2 separate regions of the Homo sapiens genome follow, and region 1 is linked to region 2. The links come from fine-mapping of genetic effects on gene expression. Tissue or cell type: gastroesophageal junction. Region 2 holds a variant in brackets; the other region holds the start of a gene. All regions are shown on one strand. Distances are between the middles of the regions.

Evidence for each region. PIP is the estimated chance that this variant, and not a neighbour inherited with it, causes the effect.
Region 1: it holds the start of SNX29, and the variant in region 2 is fine-mapped to the expression of SNX29 in gastroesophageal junction (GTEx, PIP 0.92).

What each region holds. Positions count from the first base shown.
Region 1 is chr16:11,975,233-11,977,732 of GRCh38, forward strand. It overlaps SNX29 (sorting nexin 29), which reads left to right and starts at 1,502. Exons shown (of 21, transcript NM_032167.5): 1 at 1,502-1,581. The coding sequence starts at 1,575. It also overlaps a transcript of NPIPB2 not described here. RefSeq lists an enhancer at 166-817 and a silencer at 1,312-1,771.
Region 2 is chr16:12,533,095-12,535,849 of GRCh38, forward strand. The region is part of intron 20 of SNX29 (sorting nexin 29); the gene reads left to right. It also overlaps a transcript of SNX29-AS3 not described here. Among named protein-coding and RNA genes, the nearest start is that of SNX29-AS3, 77 kb to the right of the region's middle. The variant C/G (reference allele first, on the strand shown) is at 1,659.

The DNA of each region.
Region 1 (2,500 bases), 560 kb before region 2:
CGCCTCCCGGGTTCACGCCATTCTCCTGCCTCAGCCTCCCAAGTAGCTGGGACTACAGGCGCCCGCCACTACGCCCGGCTAATTTTTTGTATTTTTAGTAGAGACGGGGTTTCACCGTTTTAGCCGGGATGGTCTCGATCTCCTGACCTCGTGATCCGCCCGCCTCGGCCTCCCAAAGTGCTGGGATTACAGGCGTGAGCCACCGCGCCCGGCCAATCCATCACCTTTTCTATCTCCACTGCCACCACTGTAGACAGGCACCATGTCTTGCCTGGACAACTGCAATAACTCCTTAACCACCTGCTCTTTCTCCACCCTGCCCCCATTATAATTCATTCTCATCCCAGGAAGAGCCATTTTTGTTGTTGTTGTTGTTGAGAGGGAGTCTCACTCTGTCACCCAGGCTGGAGTGCAGTGGTGGGATCTCGGCTCACTGAAACCTCTGCCTCCCGGGTTCAAGCAATTCTCCTGTTTCAGCCTCCCCAGTAGCTGGGACTACAGGCGCACGCCACCATGCCTGGCTAATTTTTGTATTTTTAGTAGAGATGGGGTTTCACTATGTTGGCCAGGCTGGAATCGAACTTCTGACCTCAGGTGATTCACCCACCTTGGCCTCCCAATCATGCCTTGGGATTACAGGCATGAGTCACCGCGTCCGGCCTAGGAGCCATATCTTAAAACCTAATTCAGATCGTATCACTCCTCTGCTTGAGTCCTTTTTTTCTTTGGTAGAGAACGGCGTCTCGCTACGTTGCCCAGGCTGCTCTTGAACTGCTGGCCTCAAGCGATCCGCCTGCCTCCGCCCTCCCAAGTGCTGGGACCTTCCTAGAATTAGGCAGAAAAGCCCAAACTCCTTCCTCTGGCCTGCAAGGCCCTCCCTCCACCTCCTCAATCTCCTTTTCTCACTCACCCTCTCGAACTCCTGACCTCAGGTGATCCGCTCGCCTCGGCCTCCCAAAGTGTTGGGATTACAGGCGTGAGCCACCGCACCAGGCCTATTTTCTCACTCATCCCCTCGCTCCTGTCAACCCCTCCAGGCAGGGGCCTTGCAATTGCCCCTCCTTATGGAACACTTTCCCTGGGGATCTTCCCGGACTGGGTTCCTCTCATCATCCAGGTCTGGGCTCAGAAGTCGCCTCCTTAGAGAGGCCCTCCGGGATTGCCCATCCGCCTGTGCCCACGCTTTGTCCCGTTCCTCTATTTTTATTTCCTTTCCCGCTCGCATCCCTCTCTGGGACGAAGTCGCCCCATCACTCGTGGGAACCTCAGGAAGGCAGGGGAGGCGTCTTGGGCACTTGGGGACAGCGACGCCTCCTCGCGGGGTCTCGGGTTTACCCTGAGTCTCCAGCCCGCGTAGCCTCAGCACCGCTCTCCACACCGGGTCCGGCGACTTGGATCTGCGCCGCGGTTTACGTTCCGGGTCGGCGGGCGGGGCCTCGTCGGCGGCCAGGCTCTACTTCCGGGGCGGGGCGGCCGGGGCGGGGCTCCTGTCTCCCGGCCTGTCTGGAGCTCGGCAGCCGCAGAAGCGGCAGCGGCGGCGGCGCGGCGCAGGCACCGGCCCGGGGAGAGGCACCATGAGCGGTGAGTGGCGGCCCCGCCGCTGTCACCTGCCCCGGCCGCCCCGGCTCCCGCCGCTCCAGCTGCACACTCCGGCCCCTGCGTCCTCGCGCCCCGCTCCCTCGCAGACCCCCTCCCAGTCGCTCCCTTTTCCAGACCCCTGGCCCCCAGGACTCCCGGCTCGTGGCCCCTGCTCACCTGCGGGTCTCTGATCTCCCGTGGCGGGGCACTCCTGGTCTCCTGACTCCTGTCCATCCATAAAAACCAGCTCCTAAACCCCTGTCCCCAGTTGTTCCAGTCCTGCGATCCCCTTGCCTAGTGTCCAGACCCCCAGTTCTGAGACCTCCCAGGTCTCAGTCTCTCCTAACTCCTAGACCCGCTGCGTCCCAGCTCCAGTTCCAGGTCCCCCATCCCCAGTCATCCCCGCTACCCAGGCCCCTGGTCTCCAGTCCCTGCAGTTTCCACACAGGCATAGTCTTTCTGGACAGTTAGTTTGCTGACCCCAGTACCCCCGTGTCCCAGGAGCTTCTGGTCCCCAGAGGAGCTCAATTCTGCAACCCGTTTGTCTTCCCCATCCCTCTCATCCCTCCCACCCCTGTTCCCAGTGCTTTGCTCTTCCCATCACCAGTTCTTCCCAGTTACCCACTCGGCTTCCCTCTCCGGTCCTGGCTTTTACATTTCGATGATCCTTGCATATTCCATCCTTGTCCATGTCTTATCCTGGCTCATCATTATCATTTAAGATCTCTCTTGCCTTGTCCTGCAGCCCTTCCCTTCTTGTCCCGTGCCCAGCCCATCTGGGGACCGTCACTTCGTCCTTCTTCTTCCCAGTCCAAACTTCTTCCTCTCACCATCGAGGGGGTGGTGTTGATGGGGATGCTGGAAGTGAGAGGGAGGTGGGTGTGGGCAGCTCGTCCTCAATGTTTTCTGAAGTTTAGTCCCT
Region 2 (2,755 bases):
GGGAGGGACAGGTTCAACTCGACAGCTCTGCTTAGAAACACGGCCGCCTTTGCCAGGCAGGGCCTCTCTCTGAACAAACTGGATTCTGGAACCAGCAGCCATCTGAGGCCACAGAGGACACTTTGCTGCTGTTTTGCCCAAAGGGCAGCTGATTCTCCTGTGGAGTGCTTTGCAGAATCCGTAGCAGCTTCCTGGAAAGTCAGCCCTAGTCACTGTTCGTGGGCTGGTACCTGTGGCCCTGTGGGTCCTGGGATAGCTTAGATGCTAAGAGGCTGTTTGAGGTCATGGAGTCTTTCGCCCCTTTTGTGATGTGTTGATGCATATTTCCACCCCACAGGAGGTGAGACACTAATGTTGCACCTCCCCACCCCCATCCCCAGCAGTGGGGTTCCTGGACAGACTTGTCACATCAGAGAGCAGCCCGTCAGCCACTGCAGCCTTTTGTCCTCATTTCTTACTTTCTTAGCCTCGTCATTATCAACCAGGTATATTATTTGGAGGGAGGAGACACCCCGCTACCTGGACTGACACCCCAAATTGGGGCCTTGGTTCTGTGATCTTCCAGCATCAATAGGCACCCCAAATTTACCTCTGTCGACTGGATGCCTTGGCAAACTCAGGTGCCTGTAGGTCTGGGTGGGTCATATAAGTGAATTAAGCCATTGAGTTGTCAGCAGGGAGTGGTGTGGAGTGCAGCTCATAGGCCCCATCAAAAGGGATCAGCCACTCCTCACCAGGCTGATTCCTGTTATATAGGACTGCAGCTAGCTGGATAGAAGTCCTTGACCTTTTCAAGACGTGGCAGAAATGCACATCTTCATATAAAATCTGATGTTTAAGTTGGTTGGAAACTCCTTTGTTTGCTTAAAACATCTGTGGGCCACATGGGGTCCACTGTACCTTAAAAGCCTTCCAGGGCAAAAGGGGACTTTGGTGCATAAGTCTGTTTAACATGTGAAGCAGTGCAGAGTGAGGGCAGCAGGGGATCCCACTTGACCCCAGGGGATCGCGATGACAAGGTGCTAACCAGGACAGCTCCAACACCAGGCCTCAGGGCAGCGCGGCCTCTGCGGTTCTGACTGAGGTCTTCATAAGAGTGTGGGCTCCATGAGAAAGGGTCCATTGGAGTAATCGTCGGGCTAGAGATGTCTGCTCAGTGCCCAAGCACCGCCGGCACACCTGCCGTCTTTCTCCGTGTGGGAGACGTGCTCCTAATGAGGGCCTCTGTGCCCAGCCAAATGTCCTGGTCTTTGGAGAGGTTTCCTGCACCTCTCACACCTTCTCTGTGGCAGCTTCTTTTGCTTCTTGTCCTCTGTGTAGCCAGCGGCTGCACTCGGTTGCCTGTAGAAAGAACGCAGATTAGGGAGGCTTTGGTTTTTGTTTTCGGGGTTTGTTTTGCTTTTAGCAGCTCAGCAAGAAAAGTGGGTCTTTGGAGGGCAGTTGTGTCAGTTCAGGGAAATTGGTCACAGGTTATTAGGGTTGAAAAAGAAGTCTGGTATTGTCACCTGTTAAATTCAAAAAGCAAATTCCATTCATGGGTAAAATTCACCTGAAGGAGTTCCCTGCAGACGGGCTGTCGGAGGATCTTTGATTCTGCTTTTCTTGGCGTTGCCACTCCCCTGTCACTCACTGCCCCTTGCCCTACTAAACCCAAGTGG[C/G]TTTCTTTCTGCGTCTACCCCTCTGGTTTTTAACTAAGGGCAATTTTGCCTTACTCCCCAGTTCCAGGCACAGCTGGGAGTGAATGCAGACATTTTTGATTGTCCCAACCATGGGGGACAGTGCCACGAGAATCTAGTGGGTAGAGGCAAGGGATGTACTGAGCATCCTACACCTCACAGGATGGCCTCCTCCCTGCACAGCAGAGTTATCTGACCTGAACGTCATTAGTGTGAAGGTTGAGAAGCCCAGACCTGGCCTGAGAAGCTGGCTCGTTGGGTCTTATAAAACCAGCTACAAAGCACTGGGACTCCACAGTCAAGAAAAAGAGAGAGGGAGGAGAAACCAACATGTATTTAGCACCCGCCAGGGTCCAGGTATTAGGCCAGGAGCTTTTCATTTCTTTGAGACAGAGTCTCACTCTGTCACCAAGGCTGGAGTGCAGTGGTGTGATTTCAGCTCACTGCAACCTCTGCCTCCTGGGCTCAAGCGACTTTTGTGCTTCAGCCTCCCAAGTAGCTGGGATTACAGGCATGTGCCACCATGCCCAGCTAATTTTTGTATTTTTAGTAGAGATGAGGTTTCGTGTTGGCCAGGCTGGTCTCGAACTCCTGGCCTCAAGTGATTCACCCATCTCGGCCTCCCAAAGTGCTGGGATTACATGAGCCACTGCGCCTGGCCAGCTTTTCATTTATTAACACATCCTTTCTTTGAGGTTAGTGTTACTGTCCCTTTTTTCCAGATGAGGAAACTGAGTCTCACAGAGTGAAGTGGCCAAGCCATAGTCTCACAGCTGGGACGTGGCAGCATGGGGAGTGTGAGCTGGGTATGCACGATTGGCAAGCCTCTACCCTTTGTCACTGTCAGTCACACCAACATGAAGCACTTACAGAGCAGTCTTGAATATCTTCAGGGCTGGGGCTTTCCAGGTCCTGCATTGTAACTGTGGGTCCTCTGTGCCCCTTGTAAACAAAGCCAGGCTTGGTCACGCTCGTCTTCCACCACTGTGTGTCTCCTCTGGAGGTCCTCAGAGTATAGAGGCCGCAGCCACTGTGTAAGCCTTGCCGCCACTTTGGCCTCTCAGTGCTTAGATCGGCCA